3 separate regions of the Homo sapiens genome follow, and all the other regions are linked to region 3. The links come from fine-mapping of genetic effects on plasma protein levels. A gene starts in region 3. Each other region holds a variant in brackets. All regions are shown on one strand. Distances are between the middles of the regions. Region 1 overlaps INPP1 (inositol polyphosphate-1-phosphatase). Region 2 overlaps HIBCH (3-hydroxyisobutyryl-CoA hydrolase). Region 3 holds the start of INPP1 (inositol polyphosphate-1-phosphatase).

What was found. PIP is the chance, under the fine-mapping model, that this variant and not a neighbour inherited with it causes the effect. The UK Biobank Pharma Proteomics Project read protein levels with antibody pairs (Olink). The fine-mapping took linkage between variants from a reference panel, not from the people measured, so its PIPs are less certain.
Region 1: its variant is fine-mapped to the plasma level of the INPP1 protein (UK Biobank, PIP above 0.99).
Region 2: its variant is fine-mapped to the plasma level of the INPP1 protein (UK Biobank, PIP above 0.99).

Annotation. Positions count from the first base shown.
Region 1 is chr2:190,362,136-190,370,135 of GRCh38, forward strand. INPP1 (inositol polyphosphate-1-phosphatase) reads left to right here. Exons shown (of 7, transcript NM_001128928.2): 4 at 492-552; 5 at 4,560-4,760; 6 at 6,968-7,142. Among named protein-coding and RNA genes, the nearest start is that of INPP1, 23 kb to the left of the region's middle. The variant TA/T (reference allele first, on the strand shown) is at 4,557.
Region 2 is chr2:190,282,816-190,291,092 of GRCh38, forward strand. HIBCH (3-hydroxyisobutyryl-CoA hydrolase) reads right to left here. Exons shown (of 14, transcript NM_014362.4): 5 at 7,590-7,670; 6 at 4,771-4,823. Among named protein-coding and RNA genes, the nearest start is that of HIBCH, 33 kb to the right of the region's middle. The variant A/G (reference allele first, on the strand shown) is at 3,976.
Region 3 is chr2:190,339,820-190,348,096 of GRCh38, forward strand. INPP1 (inositol polyphosphate-1-phosphatase) reads left to right here and starts at 3,770. Exons shown (of 7, transcript NM_001128928.2): 1 at 3,770-4,142. It overlaps LOC124906109 (serine/arginine repetitive matrix protein 1), which reads right to left and starts at 5,230. Exons shown (of 1, transcript XM_047446773.1): 1 at 1-5,230. The coding sequence starts at 4,497. The coding sequence ends at 3,619. RefSeq lists silencers at 3,756-4,065, 4,136-4,465.

The DNA of each region.
Region 1 (8,000 bases), 22 kb after region 3:
GTGGGGAAACAAACGCCTGAAAATAAAAACAAAATCGAATGTTATCTATCCTCTAATTCCTTCTATCCAGTCTCAAGTCGTGCTTTTAGATACTTGATCAACGAAATTGCCTTGTATAAGCTACTGGGATGTTGTTTAAGAGCAATAGTTAAAACATGTCCTTTGCAAATATTCGAATTCTATGGCCCTTAAGTAGAAGGATGAAGTTTCTAGAAGTACTTTTGCAAACTAAACAGGACATAAGGGAACCAGGCATCTACCATGATTTTGACTTTCTAGAGGGGCAAAAGAACAGAAAAATATTAGAAAATTAAGCACTGAGCCAAGTTGACTTCGTTTTTTTATACTTGGATTGGTTTCTAGAATTGGAAATTTTGGAATTTCAGTTCTGATTGTGCTATTTAATTTGAAATATAAAATTGAAATCTGTTCAGAATTGAGCATATGTGTGGGTTTTTGTTTTGTTTTTCGTCATACTCTGAATCATTCAGTTTCCAGGCTTGGAAAAAAATATTTTTGGAGAAGAATCCAATGAGTTTACTAATGACTGGGGTAAGTATAAGAATCTTAATGTGTCTTTGTAATTTAATTATCATATGGTATTCTAGTCTCTAGTTTATACCATGAACTAAATGTTTGGAAGCCACTTACTGTAAACAACATAATATATTTGAATGTTAAGGTTCATTCAATTTCTACCTCAGAATATCATGCCATTTAACTTAAGTAGAGAGATGTGGTATCTTAGAATAATTTAGCAAGTCCATGTATCATTTTAGATATAAATCTGTGGCATTTAAGTAACTTATAACTCAAGCTTTGGGAAAATTGCATGGCCCTTTGGGAATCTAATGTAAGTTATTAATGCCCCAAAGATGCCCATCTACAAAATTATGCAGACAATTTCAGATCCTAGGTTTAAACCCATCTGTGCGCTCTTGGGGGAAGTCCATGGACCTTGGCTAAAAGTACAGAGGTGGCCATGGTTCTGAAATACTGTGTGATCTTGAGCAAATTAACTCATCATTTCTCTAAGTCTCAGAACCTCTGTGAAGTACTTGGATTAACTAAAAGATTCCTTTTAGTACTAAGTTTTTTGGTTTGTTTGTTTGTTTTTGAGACAGAGTTGCTCTGTTGCCCAGGCTGGAGTGCAGTGGCACAATCTCGGTTCACTGCAACCTCCACCTCCTGGATTCAAGCCATTCTCCTGCCTCATCCTCCTGAGTGGCTGGGATTACAAGCATGTGCCACCACACCTGGCTAATTTTTGTATTTTTAGTTAGAGATGGGATTTCACCATGTTGGCCAGGCTGGTCTCAAACTCCTGACCTCAGGTAATCTGATTTCTTTCAGAGAAACAATTTTTTTTTTTAGTTTGTTTGGATTTAATAGTAGAAGAATAAAATAGTGAACATTAAATACTGATCATGTGACAAATACTTATATATCTAGAAACACAATTACAAAGAAAAAATGAGTTTCTAGATTAACTCTGAAAATTTTTTAGTCTCCTTCATGCACCACATATTAAGATGCAGTTAGTTCTATGTTAGTAATACGGGAAAGAAATCTTTTAAACCTCTGAAGGTTAAAAATAACACTTATGCCTGACTTATAAGCAATCTTACATTTAAAAATCTACGCTTGACTACTTCACAAACAGCTATTTTAATACATCATTTGTCTAGAATTATAGAGGCAAAAGGCATAGCCACATCCATTTTCCTGTTTGTTAAAAGGGCAGAGAAATGTGGAGAGAGGAAGAGGAGAGATGGTGATGATGATATTGCAGGCAAGACCAGATCATAGGAAGGGATTTAGATTTCCCTCTCAGTGGGATGGGAGGTCTCTGGCAAATTTCAAGCAAAGGAGTGATATAATTTCTTCCTTTGAATGATCCCATAAGTTTTACTGAGCCCAGAGTAGGTGTGCAGTAAGTAGCCATTATTAGCTTTATTATTCCCCAACTTTAACAGTCTAATTTACTTTGAATTAAGTTAATTTAACTAAATTTGACTGTTTCTTGCTGATTCAGTCATCACTGTAATAGATGTATATTGTGCTTCCCACACTTTACTGGTCATGTAATCGCCTCAGGATCTTGGTTAAAATTCAGTAGGTCGGCCGGGCGCGGTGGCTCACGCCTGTAATCCCAGCACTTTGGGAGGCCAGGGCGGGTGGATCACAAGGTCAGGAAATTGAGTCCATCCTGGCTAACACGGTGAAACCCCGTCTCTACTTAAAAAATACAAAAAAATTAGCCGGGCGTGGTGGCGGGCGCCTGTAGTCCCAGATACTCAGGAGGCTGAGGCAGGAGAATGGCGTGAACCCGGGAGGCGGAGCTTGCAGTGAGCGGAGATCGCACCACTGCACTCCAGCTTGGGTGACAGAGCAAGACTCCGTCTCAAAAAAAAAAAAAATTTCAGTAGGTCTGGGGTGGCATCTGAGGTTCTGATTTTTTTTTTTTTTTTGTTAGATGGAGTCTCCCTCTGTTGCCCAGGCTGGAGTGCAGTGGCACAATCTTGGCTCACTGCAGCCTCCGCCTCCCAAATTCAAGCGATTCTCCTGCCTCAGCCTCCCAAGTAGCTGGGATTACAGACATGCTAAGCTACCTGCCACCACGCCTAGCTAATTTTTTTATACTTTTATTAGAGACAGGGGTTTCACTATGTTGACCAGGGTGGTCTTGAATTCCTGACCTCAAGTGATCTGCTTACCTCAGCCTCCTAAAGTACTGGGATTACAGGCATGAGCCACCACGCTCAGCCTAAGGTTCTGACTTTCTAATAAGCTCCCAGCTGATATAGACACTGCTGGTCCTTGGAATAAGAAGGGTAGAAGTAGCTACCTAGATAGCTACTAGATAGCTAGGAGTATCTAAAACGTTCCAAAGTGCCATGTTTTCTTAGTTTTTAAGATTTTTTTTCCTCCACTGCTGTCACTTCTTGTTGCTATTAACTTGCCTATTTTTTACCAGCCTCTTCCCTCACTTCTGTCAAGGGCTGAAACCAGATTAATCAAGGGTCTAAGAAGCATGTTTAAAGCGATGGTAAAGCACCTGGCCTCGGTAACTTATCGTTTCATTTGAAGAAGCAGCTTTGCTTATGTTCTGGTTCTCAATGGGCTCCACAGAGGAGAGCTATTTATATGTATACCATTTAGAGGCATAAAGTTTTACTACATTTAAAGATTGGTATATACCATTTTATGTTACTTAGCATAAACAATTTTAAGTTAAAAGCAATATCATATAAGGAGGTAGAAGCACTTCGGTGTGTTGAAAAACCTCCATTCTTTTCAATAACATATTCAGACACGGACAGGGTGACTTAAGTATATAAAAAGTCAAAAGACAAATTTTAAAAAGATTAATGATCAGGAATTCAGGAATTGTTAACTGGCCTATGTATCCCTTAACTGGGATACAAAATTGTGCCCACATGGGCATTTTTCTAGGGAGGTCTTTTGATTCCTGAAACCCATCTCTTACTATTCAGGTTAAGTGCCTGGGTAGCCACTGAGCATCTGACTTGATGAAGCCCCACCAGGTGATTCTGGCAGTCAGCCAGGCATAGGAACTGCTGGGATGGATATATTGCCCTCAATCTAAGTGCACAGCTTTTGATTCACTCTCTCACTGGCTCACTCTCTCTCTGTCTCTCTTGCTTGCTCTCTCGCTCTCTCTGTCTCAATCTTTGTCTCATTCTCTCGCTGTCTCTCTCGCTCTCTGTCTCTCTTGCTCTGTCTCTCTCTGTGTCTCTTGCTCTGTCTCGCTCTCTTGCTCTGTCTCACTGTCTCTCGCTCACTGTCTGTCTCACTCTTTTGCTCTCTCTCGCTCTCTCGCTCTGTCTCGCTCTCTCTCGCTCTCTCGCTCTGTCTCGCTCTCTCTCGCTCGCTCTCTGTCTCACTCTTTTGCTCTCTCTGTCTCTCTGTCTCTTTCACTCTGTCTCTCTCAGTCTCTCCCTGAATCTCTCGCTCTCTGTCTCGCTCTGTCTCTCTTGCTCTCTCTCGCTCTTTCGCTGTCTCTCTCGCTCTTTGTCTCTTGCTCTCTGTCTCTTGCTCTGTCTCGCTCTCTCGCTCTGTCTCTCTCTTGCTTGCTCTCTGTCTCACTCTTTCCCTCTGTCTCTTTCACTCTTCCTGTCTCTCTCTCGCTCTCTGTCTCTCTCGCTCTGTCTCACTCTCTCTGTCTCACTCTCTCGCTCTGTCTCTCTCTTGCTTGCTCTGTCTCACTCTTTTGCTCTGTCTCTTTCACTCTCCCTGTCTGTCTCTCTTGCTCTCACTCTGTCTCACTCTGTCTCACTCTGTCTCACTCTCTCTGTCTTGCTCTCTCTGTCTCTCGCTCTTTTGCTGTGTCTCTCGCTCTCTCTGTGTGTCTCTCTCTCACTCTCTTGCTCTGTCTCTCTCGCTCTTTCGCTCTGTCTCGCTCTCTGTGTCTCTCGCTCTCTCTCTGTCTCTCTCTCTCGCTCTCTCTGTCTCTCTCACTCTTTAGCTCTCTCTCTCTGTTCTTTCTCCACTGAAACTCTTGAAATGTAATGGCTTATCGTGTGGCTTTACCC[TA/T]GGGGAAAAGATTACCTTGAGGTTGTGTTCAACAGAGGAGGAAACAGCAGAGCTTCTTAGCAAAGTCCTCAATGGTAACAAGGTGGCATCTGAAGCATTAGCCAGGGTTGTTCATCAGGATGTTGCCTTTACTGACCCAACTCTGGATTCCACAGAGATCAATGTTCCACAGGACATTTTGGGAATTTGGGTGGACCCCATAGGTAAGTATAGGAAAGTATGTTTGTTCTTATTTGCAATCTTTTTTTTGGTGGTGGGGTTGGGGATGGGTGTTGGAAAAATAAAAATTATTGAGTGTAGTTTAACTCTGCTAGAAGTTTTTAAAATTTTAAAGTTTTAAAACAATGAGAGTTGAGGTGTATGTGTCATGTGTTCTGTATATATACATATATATTATAGCCGTGTGTATATATATACATATCTATAACAGGTGTGTGTATATACACACACATACATACAGGCACACATGCAAAGATGAATTAACTTCTCTTCAAAAGACTTCAGGGACCAGACTGGTAAGTAAATGAGAGAATGAAGTGAGAGCAGTTATGACCAATTGAGCACACATACCATTTAAAGAGCACTTAGCTTTAGCAGATTGTTACCATATGGGAGTACAGGCCAGCTCTTCAGATTTTTAAAGAGAAACCAAAATCCAAGGTTTTCAGCGATATATCCCAATTTCTAACCGTTAGCTACTAATTCAGTTAAAGAAGGAAACAATCAAAAAAACACAGTACAGGTCAAGCAAAAAGCTGAATGTGACGCATGAGCAGTTTGTGAGCCCTGCATGAGCTCTACATTTTTTTTGGTCATGATTGTGATAGAACCATAATGTATAATCCATTGTTTTGAAAATGTAACCCTTTTTTTTGAGACAGAGTCTCGTGTTGCACACAGGCTGGAGTGCAGTGGCACAGTCAGAACTCACTCACTGCAGCCTTGTCCTCCTGAGCTCAAGCAATCCTCCTATCTCAGCTTCCCAAGTAGCTGGGACCCAAGTAGGTGGCAGAGTTGCATGCCACCTCACTAGGCTAATTTTTTATATTGTTTTTAGAGAAGGGGTTTTTACCATGTTTCCCAGGCTGGTCTCGAACTCCTGGGTTCAAGCGATCTGCCTGCCTTGGCCTCCTAAAGTGCTAGGATGATTACAGGCATGACCTACCATGCCCAGCCAGCCTTTATCTTCAATGATGCTATTAATACAAGTTCTAGGTAATAATTTTAATAAGCTCCCCCTTCCTTTTTTTTCTTCCCCACCCAACACAATGGGACCATTCAAGGACCAGGCAAACTCCTCTCTGGGCCCTTCCCATCCTACAAGTGCATTCACAGGATGATACTGAAATGGGTTTAATCTTCAGATAATTATATCACATTCAGCCAGTGGATGATATATGGAAACTAAAAACCTTTCCCCAAATCTTTGATCATTTAAGGGTAAATTGGCATCAGTTATAGTTTCTGAGGGACAGAGATCTCCTGTTTCTTGGTTCCACCCTGAATTGATTCTGTTTTTGAGCTCTTTGAGTCTTTTGCCAGGCACATCCTTAGCCGTGTGTTGACTCCCTAGACGTCAGCAGTCAGCTGCTGGCATGTACATCTCTTAAGGGGAAACCTAGTTTCTCTGCCTCTGTTTCATAGGAGCTCCGTTAATTTCTTTTTTTGGTGCCACCATCATTGTCTCTTTCTTCCTTCTAACTTGAGGGACCAAATAATAATAGTAAAAGATAATATTACCTGTGACCTATTACAGGAGGGGGGCTTTTCTTTTTTTCTTTTCCTTTTTAAAATGTTTGTGGGTACATAATAGGTGTATATATTTATGGGGTAGATGAGATGTTTTGACACAGGCACACAATGTGAGATAAGCACATCATAGAGAATGGGGTATCCATCCCTTTGAGCATTTATCCTTTGAGTAATAAACAATCTAGTTACACTCTTTATTTTAAAATGTACAGTTAAGTTCTTATTGATTATAGTTACCCTATTGTGCTATCAAATAGTAGGTCTTTTTTTTTCACCCATTGGAAGGAGGCTTTTCCATCTCACATTGTACTAGTCCTCTGATTAGTAGTATTTCTAAAATAATCCCACCAATTATTCTGGTTATTACTTTTTCAATGCTTTTGATAAGTAACAAATATTTGAATGCCTGTTATATACAAATTGCTATGCCACAGGAACTATAGACACATCCTCTCCCTTCAAGAGTTCTCACAGTCAGGAAAATGAAACACAAGCAATTTAAAAGTAAAGTACAAGAGGCCAAATAACAATTCAATACAGTGACATCCAAAGGTAAAAAATTATTGGTTACCAAATCAGTAGAAGAGAGAAGTCATATGGAACAGAGTCTTCTAAATGATCTTTACCTGAATCCAAACACATTTGTTTCCTTTTTCAGATTCAACTTATCAGTATATAAAAGGTTCTGCTGACATTAAATCCAACCAGGGAATCTTCCCCTGTGGACTTCAGTGTGTCACCATTTTAATTGGTGTCTATGACATACAGACAGGGGTTCCCCTGATGGGAGTCATCAATCAACCTTTTGTGTCACGAGATCCAAACACCCTCAGGTAAAAGGCAAATATTTTTGGTATATTATGGTTGTTAGAACTTACGACCTCAGCTTTGCTTGTTGTTAGGATTATCACTATATGACATTCCCATGACTTAACACATGGGAGTGTTGCCATTGAAAGTCTGCGTATTTGAATTAAAGTTCTATTTTCAATCTTGGATTTGCGTAATTTTATTTCAGGCCAAGTGCATGCTGGTAGAAATTTTAAAATTAATACTATCCTGTAGAAATCATAGTTTTACATTTGGAATATAGTAATCCTGTTCCCTGTTTCTAGAATCCACTCAAAACCAGATAAGTAGAGTGGTGGTAACACTGCCTTCCAATACATTGGGAATAAGACAGCTGCCATCGCTGTATAGCCAGTTGAACTTTGGTATAATTTTAGAAGTTCAAAACAAAATGTGAAAATTATCCAATGAAAAGATTGGTAGGCATGGCCAGGATCAGAACCTAACTCACACTCCCTTTCTGCCTCCTCCCTTCCACTCTTCCATGCACTCTTAAACAGAGCGTAGAAAGTGGCCAGGACTCAGCTGCCTCTGATCCATGGCCTGTGCTTTGGGGTTGACTCCAGGGCATGGCAAAGTCCAGGTGGAACAAGCAGTTCAGCTTTTTATTGAAATAGGTCATATTTTTTCACTTATATAGGATTACATATTTTTATTGAACCTGAGCTGCTTCAAGTAACAATCATTTGCTCTTTAATAGTCATAAGTTTATACCTCTTAAGTTTTAATATTTTCCCCCTACCCCCACCATCTTCCAAACTAAAAATAGGTTTCTGCTATCTTTAAAAGGTTAATAAGAAATTAAAAAGAATTGGAACAATATGCAGACATAATCATGGCCT
Region 2 (8,277 bases), 57 kb before region 3:
GTATATTCCTAGTTGTTACGAGAAGGCCAAAAAAAAAAAAAAAAAGGTAGGATAATCCTTGCCCTTTCCAGACCATCTAATACAGTTGGAAAGATGAGATATAAAGTAACAATAAAGTACAAACACCAAATTTAGAGTACAGACTGAAAGCACTGACTCAATGAAAGAAGAAATCACATCTAATTGTAGTGTAAGTTGAGCATCCTGAATCCAAAACTCTGAAATCTGAAATGCTCCAATGAGCATTTCCTTTGAGTATCATGTTGGTGCTCCAAATATTTCAGATTTTGGAACATTTCCGATTTCAGATTTTTAGATTTAAGATTTGTTAGATATGAGTTCTAAATTTCTCTTCAAAGAGTCAATGTCAGTATGTTCAATTCTTTGCCTTCTACTTTTAAACTTAACTTCCTCATAAAGCAACCTTTTTCGATTACCTGCTCCACCCTGACTCATTCCAATTTACTGCTCTGCCATAACCATTTTTTCTGCCAAACCACTCACCCCATCACTCTCTTTAAAGTAGCCAATCAGAATTAGTTTAGCCTGTGCGGTCTAACCCTAGCCAATAGGGGAATGACACAGCAGCACGGGCCATGTGCATCAGGAATAAGAACTCCTTTGCCTCCCTTGTCCAGGTGTATGCTCACCATTGCTCCATCTGTAAGGGCACACCCTTCTATAGTAGTACATTTCCTTGCTGAGAATTAAAAACAAAATGTTACATTCGAGTGCTATTTCTTTTGCGGCACTGAAACTTTATTTATAACATATTGTAAATATTCCAAAATCCAAAACACTCCTCGTCCTAAGCATTTCAGACAAGAGATGCTCAATCCATAATATTTATGGCTATTAAAAAAGAGGGAAGAACTTCAGTCTTTAAGGATGCATGTGGTTGGGCATACCTGATGGAAGAAAAGACACAATATTTTTAAGGGAGCTGATAAAATATAGTATAAAACAAACTTTCTCAGGGGTTCCTCATCTGAACCACAGATCACTGCAAATGATGTGATTATATTCTCAATTCTCCCAAGGATGGTACATAACTAGTACCATTCGAGAAGCACAGGACAGAAATAGGAGCTAATTTATTACATTCAAGGGATGGCTTAGAGCCCTAGTTCTCAAATTAACATGACTCAGAATTACTTGGAGAGCTTGGCTTGTTCAAACAGACTGCTAGGCCCCAGCCTCGAGACTGATTCTCTAGGCAAACCCAAGAACATTTTAGGGCACTAAGACTTAATCCTCTGGTGGAGTTCTGGTTAAGAAAGGCTGATATAAAGTATATCTTTATTTGAAAGTTATTTATGTTCTTTAAATACTGAAAACAGAGACCAGTATGAAGAATCAGCAGCATCTTTACTTCATTTATTCAAGACAACATTATCTTGATCTGTTTCACTGCAGTCTTTTCTTTTGAAATAAATATTCTTGGTTGTTACATATGAGGAATATATACAAACATTATACCAACCTATACAAGCCCCAGAACTGAAGAACATGGCCAGTGCCTTCAGAAATGATGTGCTAGAGCAATATAATTCTCAGGCTTCTGTAAAAAAAAAATGGAAGTTCTGCCCACTTATAGCACCAAAGGGCAGCTTACCAATCCTTTCATATCAGAAGGAGTCTTGAGTTATAACTTTAAGTGATCTCTTGGTCAACTAGACCAAATAGTTACTGAAATATTCTCAGTAATATGTCAGCAATATATTTACCATTTCTGATAATATTTTTATTTTATATTTATACTAAATAACGACTTAGTTGGGGAGAAAACTCTTGGATCCTAACTACTTCACAACTTCTCAACCCATTGACTTCTGTCACATTGTGTAACAGAGAAATCTGAAGAAATCTGTATATAACGTATATCACTAATCACCCCATTTACCTTGATTCCTTGGCCTGACTACTCACAGTTAGCTTTTTTTTCTTAAGGCTTATAATTTTAAAAAATTTACCTGAGCTTTTATCTAGGTATGGGTCTCTTTTCACTTATCTGAAATTTCGTGTTTCCTTTAATTATACATATCTGAGTTTGGGAGTATTTGTTTTTACTTAAAGTCTTATTTCATTATATCTGATCATCATTTCTGTTCCAAGTATCTGATTTACTTTCAGTGGAGTACTTATCACTCCTTTGTTGGGTTCCCAGTAACTTTCTTTCATAGTCATTACCTCAAAACATTCATTTTCATCACTTATATATTTTTTTGAATGCTTTGTGAGAGTTTCTCAAGTTTGTTCTCCACAGATACTTCACTATCTGTAATATTAAATTCATCTCTTTCTAATCTACTGCCATTAAAATAAAATGTCAGCTTTGCTACTGTGTATTAGTTCCCAGTCATCCTCCCTGTTTCCTGTTTCCCTTTTTCAACTTGTAGCCCTTTCATCTGAGTTTGCTCTATCCTTATGGGATTTCTTTCCTGTTTTAATGGGGTCACATTTATTTTTACATGCTGTTGGGTATGCCCATTGTTTTTGTCTTCATTTTTTCCTGGTTTCTTTCACATTCACAGGGCAGCTCTTCCTTCAATGCTTCAGATTCTTTCCCTTCCTCTTACTCTGCAGTACTTTTTTCAGAGAGCTTTCCTTTTCCCCAGGTTAAAGCACAACCAACCCACGCTCAGTTTCTGCCAAGCAGAGGTACAGATCACCCTTGCTAGTAGAATCCCTTCCCAAAATGATGTGCAAGATCTAAGCAATTCCCGGTCCTTATTTAGGGTGGTTCTACTAGAACAAAGGGGGAACTTCCTGTATTCCAAATAGTTAAGTTCCTTAAAACATTGAACAGGTGGAATTTCAAAAATTCCACCTTTTGGCCTCATACTACCTACCTACCTAGGCTCTACCTACCTGGGCCCTACCTACCTATGTCCTACCTATTGTCACGGCTCAGGATATGCTACCCCAAACTACGGCCACTTGGAGGCCACTGTGACCTCCCCCCGCCTTTCTGTGGGACAGCTGGCCGTAAAGAAGTTCTCTAACCTACCTCTTCTGAAAGTATGTCTTTTTGTTTTGTTTTGTTTTTTGAGACAGAGTCTCACTCTGTCACCCAGGCTGGAGTGCAGTGGCATGATCTCAGCTCACTATAACCTCCCGGGTTCAAGCAATTCTCGTGCCTCAGCCTCCCCAGTCACTGAGATTACTGGTGCACACCATCACACCCAACTGATTTTTGTAGTTTTAGTAGAGATGGGGTTTCGCCATGTTGCCCAAGCTGGTCTCGAACTCCTAGCCTCAAGCGATTTACCCACCTCAGCCTCCCAAAGTGCTAGGATTACAGGCATCAGCCACGACACCCGGACTTGAAAGTCATTAAACCCTCATGTGACAAGGGCCCCATCCTATACCTGGAGGAAAGGAATGTTACACACAGAGGCCAAGAAGAATCTCAACAAACAAGCCTACCTAAGTTCCCCCATTTATTACTACTGAATAATACCGTTTTTGTCCAATCATACTTCTATATGACTGTCCATTGTTCACTGAACTTACACACAAAAACAGTTTTTCCTGGATCTGTGGGTCTTTGGGTCTTCTTTTCTGAAGGCTCCCATGTCATGTAAAACTTTGATTAAACAAATTTGTTATGCTTCTCTATTGTCAATCTGTCTTTTGTTATATGGATACTGGCCATGACCCCTGCAATCGGTGAGGAAAAGACATTACTTTTTCTCTCCTCCACTACCTTTCTAGGCTCAGTTCAATTCACCATCTTCTCCATGCAGCCCTTTCCTGCCATGAAGACCAATTCTGACCCCTCACTTCTTCAAAGGCTAATCTTTGTCAGTACCATACAATTTACCAATTGTTTTGTAATTATTTCATGTTTTCTCTAACTCCAGGTCAAGTTAATCAATGCCAGTTACATTTTAGACTTCTCTGTAATAGCACAGAGGCAGAATATTTGTCAACTGACAGAAATGCAGTTACAGAGAACTTCAAAAAGAATCC[A/G]AACACTTCCACTAAGGTGAAATTTTGAGTAACAGGTACAATTTAGGCAACCAAATCTCTAATACTGAATTTAAAAAAAAAAAAACTCAACATTCTAGTTTCTCTTCTGAAGTTTCTGAAAAGAATCAGTTTATTTTTAAGTAGAAAAAAGGCTCTATATATTAAAAGATAAAAACACAATCAGTTTCCATTGCTTAAAAAAACTTGCTAATTCAAAAAGTTAAAATAGCATATAACGTGTGTGTGTGTGTGTGTGTGTGTGTGTGTGTATACATATATTTTTTTGTTTTTGAGACAGTCTCACTTTGTCACCCAGGCTGGAGTGCAGTGGTGCAATCTCAGCTCACTACAAGCTCCACCTCCTGGGTTCAAGCGATTATCATGCCTCAACCTCCTGAGTAGCTGAGATCACAGGTGTGTGCCACCATGCTCAGCTAATTTTTGTATTTTTAATAGAGGCAGGGTTTCGCCATGTAGGCCAGGCTGGTCTCAAACTCCTGACCTCAAGTGATCTGCCCACCTTGGCCTCCCAAACTGCTGGGATTACAGACGTGAGGCACCATGCCCGGCCATATAACATAACTAAGAACATAAAATATTCTTTTGGGCTGGGATAGTCTAAAAGTGCTATAAGCAAATATTATATCTCAAATCTGTCAGGATCCAAAATCCACACAATTATGTTTCAATGAGTTCTATTATATTACATTCATCAGCTCACTTCTGTTTAATAATTATTAACTTATTTTTAATACAACTCACTCATACAATGATCAGAGTAAAAAGTCTACTTACCCCACCCATTGTAATTCCATGAATAAGTGCAACATAAGGTTTCTGGCAAGAACCTGAAAGAAACAGAGCTGTAATTTTAGTTACAGTGTTTAAAATACATTCCCTTTTTCTTAAAAAAAAACCCACATTATATATACTCAAGATTTTCCCTAGGAAATTTTAGCAAGAAACACCAAAGACGACTAAATGTATGGCTTATAAAATACATATTTTTAAATGTCAATCCAACACAATCCTATCTATTCATTATCATTTAACAACTTAACCTTCGATTTTAAACAAAAGCCAGGGCCCAGTGTGGTGGCTGACACCTGTAATCTAACCTCTTTGGGAGGCCAAGGTGGGAGGATTGCTTGAGGTCAGCAGTATGAGACCAGCCTGAGCAATACAGCAAAACTCCCTCTCTTAAAAAAAGTATAGCCAGGTGTGGTGGCAGGCACCTGTGCTCCCAGCTGCTCAGAAAGCTGAGGTGGGAGGAACACTTGATCACTTAAGCACAGGAGGTTGAGGCTGCAGTGAGCTGTGATCATGCCACTGCACTCCAGCCTGGGCAACAGACCAAGACCCTATCTTTTTTTTTTTTTTTTTTAAAAAAAGGAAGAGCTATGTCACATTATGGTTGGGAACATTCAATATCAAAGATGTCAATTCCCTCCAAATTAACCCATAATTCATTCTAAGTCTAATCATAATCTCAGTAGAAACTTTTGTGAAACTAGATAAAACAATTCTAAAATTCATATGGAAGATCCAAAGTCCAACAGCAGCCAAGAAAAAAGACATGTAGAAAAAGCATCTTAAAGAATTTGGAAACAAAGTAATGATGCATAAACACTATGATCTATCCATTCTACATATTATTTCTGGAGAAACTTTTGCACATGGGAAATAAGGGACCACATACTAGATAGAGTACAACTATCTATGTTAGTAACTACTGGAAGCTAAAATATCCATTAATGTAGAACAGATAATTAATGTGGGATATAATCATAATATTGGATACCACAGAAGAGTTACATTCCATGTTGTTAAAAACAATTTATGGAATGGTTACACAGTAAGATAGTATTTATGTAAATTGCTAAACACAAAGTAAAAATCTTTTAGTTCAAACTTAAAATAAAAGCTAAAAAACAAAAGGAATTGGAAAGCTTAAAAAGCAGCGGCCTCTATTTGTCTACTTTGCTGTATAAAATATGATACAATGCTCTGCATTTCTATTTTGTCTTTAAACTTACACCACACCAGGTGCGTGGCTCATGTCTGTAATCCCAGTACTTTGGGAGGCCGGGGCAGATGGATCACCTAGGGTCAGGAGTTCGAGAGCAGCCTGGCCAACAGGGTGAAACCTGTCTCTACTTAAAATACAAAAATTAGCAGGGTGTGGTGGTGCATGCCTGTAATCCCAGCTACTCAGGTGGCTGAGGCAGGAGAATCACTTGAACCTGGGAGACAGAGGCTGCAGTGAGCCAAGATCGCACCACTGCACTCCAGCCTGGGTGACAGGGCAAGACTCTCTCTTAAAAGATAAATAAATAATAAATAATAAAATAAAAATAAACTTATGTTTTACTATTTTAAATACTTTAATGTTAAATGAGTATACAGCTTTTTTCATCACTTAGTAATTATTTTCATCAATTCATATTTTTAGAAAAACATATATATCCCCATGTGTTTAATCTACTAGATATTAATTCATGTTTTTATGCCAATATATAAATGTTTATTTGTCTAAAAGGCACATGACAAAAACTGAATTTATTTTTCCAACTATATGTCAAAATACGTTAATATCATGTATTCAATCAAATTCTAACTTAAAATCTTTTAGTTCATAAATATTTAGTAAAAATGTCAAATATGGTCTAGGAGAATACACTAAAAATTAATGACAATGGTTGTTTTTGAGGAGGGATAAATGGTTGCTTCTGGGGAAAGTAATGGCACTGAGGAAAGCAAAAAAATGGGCTGAAATGTAACTTCCAAACTTGCAGTATTATATTTCTTTTGGAGAAATTTTAAATCATCAAGCAAAAACAAAATATTGACGTCTGTTAATTCTGGGCTGGAGGGTACACAAGTACTTATTATGTTATTTCCTGTATCTTAACTTCGCATGCTAGATAAAAGTACTGCTTCACCTCCAATGAAACCTAGAACCTTGAATATAAAGAAATTTTTATTCCTAAGAATTAGGAAATGATACTATACTTCATTTCATAGAGAAAACTGGAACCCAAGTTTTTTCCCCCAAGAAAGCTACCACATGATGAGAAATCCATATTTTCATATTGATTTATTTTTGAGACGGAGTCTCGCTTTGTTGCCCAGGCTGGAGTGCAGTGGTGCAATCTCGAATCACTGCAACCTCCACCTCCCAGGTTCAAGCTGATTCTCCTGCCTCAGCCTCCCGAGTAGCTGGGATTACAGGCACTTGCCACCGCACCCAGCTGATTTTTGTATTTTTAGTAGAGACGGGGTTTCAGCACGTTGGCCAGGCTGGTCTCAAACTCCTGAACTCAGGTGATCCACCCACCTCAGCCTCCCAAATTGCTGGGATTACAGGCGTGAGCCACCATGCCTGGCCTCATATTGATTTTATAACAAATAGCAGTTAAGTATAGCCTACTAATATTAAAGGGTAACTGTTCTGAAATAAGCACTTAAAATAGTTTAATCAACTTTACTTATGCCTGGCACATGGTATTAAAAGTTTAAGTAAGGATGCCTATTGATTGCATTTTTAACAAAGTACATACTGTCCACCTCATTTCTTTATTCCATTTCCAAAGCTCTGAGCAGAATACACATACCAACAGCATTATTCAGCATATATTCTTCTCTGAAGAAAACTGGAGCTATCTTCTGTTTTGCCTTTTCAGCTTCCGAGATCACTAGGAAGGAAAGATTACAAATAAAAAAAAAAAGATTTAATAGTCAACATTGTCAACTAGATCAAAAGTATTATGAAAATTAAATACTGGGGGAAGGGAGTACTCTAAAATGACTTGTTAAAAGTTTTGAAGTTGCCCCTGCCACAGACATTATATTATAGTCACAGATCCATAGTCCAATGTCAAAGCTTCAAGGCAAAAATTCCTATTCTTGTTTTCCATGCTTCTTACAAAATGTTAGATTAGAAATTATAGGCTGGGCATGGTGGCTCAAACCTGTAATCGCAGCACTTTGAGAAACCAGGTGGGAGGATTCCTTGAGGCCAGGAGTTTGAGACCAGCCTGGTGAAACTCTGTCTCAACAAAAAATGTTTAATTAGCTGGCTGCAGTGCCACATGCCTGTAGTTCCAGCTGCTCAGGAGGCTGAGCCGGGAGGATCATTTGAGCCCAGGATATTGAGGCTACAGTGAGCCATCATCACACCACTGTACTCTAGCCTGGAGAGAAGAGTGACACCCTGTCTCCTTAAAAAAAATAATAATATATTGCAACAAGCTACATTTTCTTTTGATTATTTTCTCTAGCACTTAAATTAACATTTGCTAG
Region 3 (8,277 bases):
AACCATTCTGCTATTAAATAAAAGTGCTCAGAAGAGCATTATGTAATCAGGGAGTACAGAAGAGAGAGCAACCAACTCCTTACAGAGATTGTAATAAAAGATTTTCCCAAATTAACAAATGAGGTGCTTTGTTGTCCCCCAAGCAAAGTTTCGTATATTTTTTAATTATATAAACAATACATTTCATTATGGGAAACATATACATAAAACAAAAAGCAAATATCTACAATTCCATCCCCTGCCCTAGACCACTATAAATATCTGTTTATATCTTTCCAGATTTTTTTCTATGCATTTATACACACATGATTATGTTGTTTTCGGGATCACACCATATTATTTTGTAAACTGTATTTTCCACTTAATAAATCATAAATACTATTTTATCCAATAGATACCATTCTGCAACATTTTAAAATTTTAACACTTTTTAAAAACTTGCCTCCGTGTATCTAGTTGTAACTAATTTTTATTCTCGGACATTTAGTTTGGTTTCTCTTTTGGCCATTACCAAATGTACTGTGATGAGACTTTACATTTTGGGGGTGATACAGTTTGGATGTCCCATTCAAATTTCATGTTGAGATATAATCTCCAGTGTTGGAGGTGGAGCCTGGTGGGAGGTGTTTGGATCATAGGGGCGGATCCCTCATGAATAGCTTGGGCCATCTCCTTGGTGATAAGTGTGCTCTCACTCTGAGCTCACAGGGATCTCATTGTTTATGTGGCTCCTCCCCCCCAACTCCTTCTTGCTCCCGTTCTCACCATGTGAGACATCTGCTCCCCATCACCTTCCAGCATGATTGGAAGCTTCCTGAGGCCCCCCCAGAAGCAGATGGCATTATGCTTCCTGTACAGCCTGCAGAACCATGAGCCAGTTAAACCTCTTTTCATATAAATTAACCAGCCTCAGGTATTTCTTTATAGTAATGCAAGAATGGCCTAACAAGGGTGGGGGGAGGGGGGGCAGTTTTTTTTTTTTTTAAACACACACACAAAAGAAAAGCCACAGAGACATATGTGGCCTTCAAAGCCCAAAGTATTTGCCATCTGACCTTTTATAGAAAATGTTTGTATTATAAATTTCCAGGAATGTAATTTTTAAGTCAAAGTGTGTGAACATTTTTGACGCTTTCACTACATTCTGTCAAATTGCTCTCCAGAATCGTTGAGCCAATTTACACCCTTCTCAGTAATGTATGAGTTTCTTTAGTTGCTATACATCCTACTCCAAGGGTCACTGGCCCAAATTACTAGCTCTGAGTATTATTTTATTCTCAATTTGATGGTGCATTATCGTTTTAAGTTTTTACTTCTCTTAAAAATGTTTGGCCATTTACATTTTTCTCTCATGATGACGAATTTGCATTTTGCTCATTTTTAGTAGGCTATTTTTTCTTTCTAAGTTCTCTTTAATGTTATGCTTATCTGTCATGTATATTGCAAATTTTTTGTAATTTTTACTTGTTTTTAAATTTTATTCTATGGGGTTTTTTTTTGGATAAAAGAAGTTAAAAGTTCAACAGTCAGATCTGTCACTTTTCCTTTGTAATTTCAGCCGTTGTTTCATGCTTAGTTTGAGATTAAAAGCAATTCACTTGTATTTTCTCCTTGCCCTTTTAAGACTTAAAAACATTTAAATCTTTTAATCCTGTTCAAATTTAGTGTCTGGGAAACATTTTAGAAGGATGAATAGGTAATATTATGTTAGTCCTGGAGTCAGATTGCTGGGTTCAAATTTAGCCTCACCAAATACTACATATTTCTGCAAATCACTTAAACTCTTTAAGTCTTAGTTTTCTTGTTTATAAAATGGAGATAACAGTAACATTTACCATAGGGTTGATGTAAGAATTAACAGTTATAAATCACAGAAAGTACTTAGCACAGTGTCATTAGCTATTATTATAGCAGCAAGAGAATACTCTCCCAGGCAAAAGCAATAACATGTATAAAGGTGCAAATGTATGAAATCTGTTTGCATATTCAGGGAACTAGATGTGGTGTAGTAAAATGAGGTGTAATATTCAAGGGGCAGAGTTGACAGATGCGAGGGGTGATGGGTCTTGAATGAGTTGTTCAGGAACTTGCTCTTGATATTATCAGAGATTGGGAGCCAATGAAAGCTTTTAAGCAAGCAAGAAACCCTGCAGATGTGTGGTAGCAAAGTGGAAAATGGACTAGATTCCGCCAGGTGCAGTGGCTCACGCCTGGAATCCTAGCACTTTGGGAGGCTGAGCTGGGCGGATCCCCTGAGGTCAGGAGTTCGAGACCAGCCTGGCCAACATGGTGAAACCTCGTCTCTACTAAAAATACAAAATTAGCTGGGCATAGTGGCAGTCACTTGTAATCCCAGTTACTAGGGAGGCTGAGGTGGGAGAATCGCTTGAACGAAGGAGGCAGAGGTTGCAGTGAGCCAAGATCATGCCACTGCACTCCAGCCTGGGCGACAGAGTGAGACTCTATCTTAAAAATAAAAAAAAAAGAAAAGAAAAGAAAAGAAAAATGGACTAGATTTATATCCCTTGCTCCACCCTGTCTTCCCCAAATTTAAATTCCTGCTTCCTAGAGGCAAATTCTTTCACCTTCTATGTCTCTGGTATTTATCTCCTTACTTTTAAGAATCATGTTTAAATTGTTTCTTGATTTTGCCATCATAGATATGATTATGAGGCTAATTAAACAGTAATCCTAACCGCTCTGAGAATGGACCTAAGAAATGAATGTGAGAAAGAAAGTAGAAGCAGCCCACTTGCTAGTGAGTGAAAGCCAGGGAAGGGTGGGGGGATGCGGGGAGAAATTGTCTCAAGTTGGAGAACCCAGGTGCAGGCTGGGAGCAGTACCATGAATTCCATTCAAGAAGCCAAACGTTTTAAGCACCATTTCCTGGAGTTTGCCAAGTTGAGTATTGACCCAGCCTCCTGTCTTGTTGGTTCCTCACTGCTGAAGAAGACCAAGTGTTGACAACTCAGTGAGGCAGTCTCAGCTGGAGTGGAAAAATGTAGCTAAGAAAACGTGCCAGACAAAGCTTTAAGCAGAGCTTCCCAACTGGATGCCGTGAAACGAATGACAGGGATGCAGATACAGCATGGGTCTTCCCAGCCCTCCAAGTGCAAGGGCTTCTGCAGGAAGCCTTCTGCAGGAGCAGCCTCTTCTGTTTACCCCCATTTTGACCCTTGTAATATCATCCTTTCCTACCTGTGCCAAGAAGTGAAAAGGTGTGTGAAGCGCCGCTTTAGAAGGCCCAGTACATTCACAAACATCAGCTTCTGGGCGAGGCTGCTTGGCCTCTTCTATTCAAAACTTTGTGTTGCCCTTTTAAGGTTTCTATTCCCCCCACCCCCACCCCGCCCACCAACACCCATTCCTACCTAGGTTCAACCCAAACCATCCTTAAGGTACACTGAGTATCACAGCACCAAAGGCTGGAGAGAGATAAGTTCCCCACCCTTGATGCGCTTCCTGTCCAGGTGGCCCGAGGCCCACTCCTTAAGAGGCAAGGCCCAGAGACACTGCTGTGTCTTGAGGAACATCCAGTACACCTGACATTTCCATTAGAACAGTGGGACCCGGATACCACTGGCAGGAAGTCCATCTTCACAGCTGCCAACCCATCTGTCAAACCCGCAGTCCCCTATGAGAGTACAGATGAATGGAGGAGGAAGATTTAAAAGTGAATTCGTGGGCGGCGACAAGGAAACAGCAGCCGTGGCCAAGCTGACCCCAGAGCCCTTCCCTTCCTGGCCCTCCCTCTGAATCATCGCGCTCCACTTGTGACGTCGCGGACGCCCGGCTCGGGCAGGCGTGGGGGGCCCGCGCGTCCCGGGAGCCCCGAGGCGGCAGCGCGCGTTTCCACGCCGCGGTCCCGCGGGAAAGCCGGGGGCGGCGGCCTGGCTGAGGCCAAGCTCGGATCCGGTGCCGAGCCAAGCGGGGCCGTGCGTCGCCGGGGCTTCGCCTTCGCTCGCGTGACCTCCGCCGTCCTCCCCAACCCTCGTCCTCTGGCCGCGCCTGCGGCCGCACGCCCAGCGCCCCTCGCCTAACCTCGCGCCCGGGCCGCGCCTCCTCCTCCTCCTGCTCCCCGCCGCTTCCGTTTCTCGAGGGAAAGGCTGCTGCCTCCTGCTCTGTCCTCATCCCCGGCTTAGGTAACACGTTTTCCTCCTTACGACACCCACCACAGGGTCCCCGCGCCGCTGCCCCTCCTCCTTGGATCTGGGGCCCGGGCTGGTGAGCGGCGCGCGCCGTCGCCTCTCCGCGGGTAGGTGAGTCGATGGCGCCGGGAGGGTTCCTCGCCTCTGCGCGCCGGCCTGCGAGGTCCCTGCCCCGGCAGCGAGGCCGCCCCCGGCCGGGCCCGGCCAGGCATGCCCGGCATCGCCGCTGCAGCCAGCGCGGAGGGGAGCTCGTGAGTCCCGCGGCGCCCTTGGCCCTGCCCGAGCGGCCCGATGGGGTTGGGGGGCGGGAAGAAAGGGTGGCAAACAACGATTTTAAAAATCCAGTCATTAGTATTTGTAGGACGAAGAAGCTGATCTGACAGTTGTCCAGAGCAGTGGCCCAGCTGCAACAGGTAGATGGCGCAGCTGTCAGTGACCCCTTGGTCTCAGCCTTGGCTTTGAGAGATGCATCTGAGTGTCCCTAGCTGCCAGCTACCTCCAGTGACCTACTTGATGAGTGTGAAATAAATATGATGGGACTATATTTAGAAAAATCTTTACTTCCTTGCTGTTAATTCTCTCTGCATTTTGAAAGGTGGTTTTGTGAGGTGTGCATAATTAGTTGGTGTGTCCAGAGTGGTAGCTGGAAAAAAATATTTAACCTGGGTTTGGCCCTATCATGTAGACGGTTAGGCGCAAAGAGTGTGAAAGGAAACGCTTACTTTAGTACATCTGTGAAAAACACTTATAAGAAACCACGGCTTGTTTTTTGGAGATTTCTCATTTTAAAGGTATTTTTAAAGTGTTGAATAAGCAGAAGTTTGCCCACTGTATGATGGTGTTCACTTCAAAAGAACAGTGGGTTAAAAGTATGGACAGACCACTTAAGTGGATCCCATCTGTTGAGTAAAAGATTTTTTAGCCCTTTTACACTGATTCCTAGCTTTGAAGCCAGAAAAGTTGATAAGGATCAGCCCTGCTCAACTTGATAATAGTATAAGGATGAAAGTAATCCACTGAACTACTCTTGATTGGTGAATTAGCTAAGTGATCTCATTCTTACCTTTTAAAATAGAGAACATAAGGGAAAAAATAAAGGCAATGGAAGAATTCATTTTTTCAATACAGATATTTGTTTCCATTCTTATGTAGAGCCTACTTTATTTTTAAGTTTTTATGGATTTTTATACTACTTTTGAAGTCAGCTTAGTCATGAAGAGAATTATGTCAAATACATAGAGTTACACTGTACTTTTTGTGTAGAATAAGCTACCACTTTTCAAGCTTTTGGACTAAACCACCGCTTGCTTGGAAATTGCAGCTTTGACTAATGCCCTTTAAAATGATATACCTTATTATAGATTTAAATTATAGCTTTCCTTGTTATAGTCCTGAAAAAAATGAAAAGATAATTTCTTGTTTGACATAGAAGGCCTGTGAGACAAAAGTTATAAAGGTTATTATATATTTATTTTGCTTTTTAATTCTGTCTCTAATAACAGTTAGAAAATGTCTCATTCTATTTCATGTTATACAGAAATTGCTTAAAAGATAATTATGTTATATAAAGTGATCAATGAAAACAAACGTCATCTTCATTTTTTAAAGGTGAGGATGGTGTATATAAGCACTTTTTCCCGATGTGAGTCCTTATGAATGTTCTTGTTAAAATACTTTGAATCTTGTAATGAAGTTAATAAAACTATGTTAATGTGTTTGGCTGAGAGCTTAGAAATAAAGGCTCTGGCTGGCGTGGTGGCTCACGCCTGTTATCCCTGCACTTTGGGAGGCCAAGGCAGGTGGATCACTTGAGGTTAGGAGTTCGAGACCAGCCTGGCCAACATGGTGAAACCCCGTCTCTAGTAAAAATACAAAAATTAGCCAGGCGTGGTAGCAAGCACCTGTAGTCCCAGCTATTCAGGAGGCTGAGGCTGGAGGATCCCTGGAACCTAGGAATCAGAGGTTGCAGTGAGCCCAGATCGCGCCACTGCACTCCAGCCTGGGCGACAAAGCAAGACTTCATCTCAAAAAATAAAAATTAAGTTAAAATTAAAAAAATAAAAGTTCTGCTTCCCGTCTCCTGTGATTGATGTTGGGTACTGTTTCTCAAACTTGTCTGATTGTAAAATTCCTCAGGGTAGTAGGCAAGTCGGGGAGTGGGTAGAGTATAATAGTGGTTTAAAAGATTCCCAGATTGCAACTTGAGACTTCCTGGATCAGAATTTCTAAGAGAAAGGAGATATTTCAAATAGACAAAAATGATAAAATTTTAAAATAGTCAACAACAACAAAAAAGGTGAGTTTGGGAAATGCAGGTGGGAAATGACTATTGTTGGAATGAATAGTTGATAAAACTTATTAGGACTCCTGTACATAAAATGTTCATATATGGAAACTGATTTTATTAATATGATGAGGCCACTCATTTAGGAAATCTGAAACTTTTATATTTTTTTCTGGTCAAGCTTCTGCTGATCAAATTTAGCAAACATATTTTTGCATGTTTAGTCTTTTTTATGTGGTATGTAATGTTAATTCAATTTCTTGAATGTGATAAGAGCATTTTATTAATGGATGACTAATGCAGATTACTGTAACTAGTAATCCACAGCAAAATATTGTACCTAATAATTTCTCTTTCTTTTTTTTCTTTTTTTCTTGAGAAAAGGTCACACTCTGTCATCCAGGCTGGAGTACAGTGGTGTGATCATGGCTTATGCAGTCTCCACCTCTCAGGCTCAAGGAATCCTCCCACCCCAGCCTCCCGAGTGTCTGGGACTACAGGCACGTGCCACCATCCCAGCTAATTTTTAAAATTGTAGAGATGGGGTCCCACTATGTTGCCCAGGTTGGTCTCAAACTCCTGGGCTCATGACATCCTCCTGCCTCAGCCTCCCAAAATGCTGGGACTACAGGTGTGAGCTGCTGCACCCAGCCTAATTTCTTTCATATTATAGATTTATTTGTTACCTCTTCCATGTGCCTGATTAAATAATTATAGGCAAGACAGGCATGCAAATTTGAATACCTTATTAGTAGCTTTTTTTTTTTTTTTTTTTTTTGAGACAGAGCCTCACTCTGTTGCCCAGGCTAGAGTGCAGTGGTGTGATCTCGGCTCACAGCAACCTCTGCCTCCCAGGTTCAAGCGATTCTCCTGCCTCAGCCTCCCGAGTAGCTGGGATTACAGGTGCCCGCTACCACACCAGGCTAATTTTTTGTATTTTTAGTAGAGATGGGGTTTCACAGTGTTAGCCAGGATGGTCTCGATCTCCTGACCTCGTGATCCACCCGCCTTGGCCTCCCAAAGTGCTGGGATTACAGGCGTGAGCCACCACACCTGGCTCCTTATTTGTAGCTTTTTAAAAAATGACTCTCAACCCCATTCAAAAAAGAAAAAAAAATTTATTTGGCCCTAAAACTTGGTCAGTTATATATAAAAAAATTAAAGAAATAGAATATTAAATACCTATAAAATAATTTGACAAGATGAGTTACCATAATGGAAAATGTCAGAATTTATTTTCCTTTTCCTTCTTCCTCTTTACATTGCTTTTCTTTCTCCTTTTTTGGGGGGGGATGGAGAGTGTGTGTTATTTGCTCATTTGTTTTTATTTTTAACCAACTAAATATTTAAAATATAGTAAATTATCCATGTTTAAATTAATTTAAATATTTGCCAACTTTACCAATAGATATTTAAACTTGCCCTTTTCCTCTAAAGTGACAGTGGTAGGCTTTGCTCAATGCAAATGAGAGTAATAATTCATATCAAAGGAGTTAAATTCAAGTGACCAAAGAAAATTGTTCTTTTAACATTGCTTAAGGAAAGCATAACTTAAATTGATGCCATAATTTTTCATTATCAGCAACTCTTAAAATGAGGATGGAGGCTGGGCATGGTGGCTCACGCCTGTAATCCCAGCACTTTGGGAGGCCAAGGCGGGTGGATTACCTGAGGTCAGGAGTTCGAGACCAGCCTGGCCAACATGGCGAAACCTGGTCTCTACTAAAAATACAAAAATTAGCTAGGTGTGGTAGCGCGTGCCTGTAATCCCAGCTACTAGGGGGGCTAAGGCAGGAGAATCGCTTGAACCTGGGAGGCGGAGGTTGCAGTGAGTCAAGATCGTGC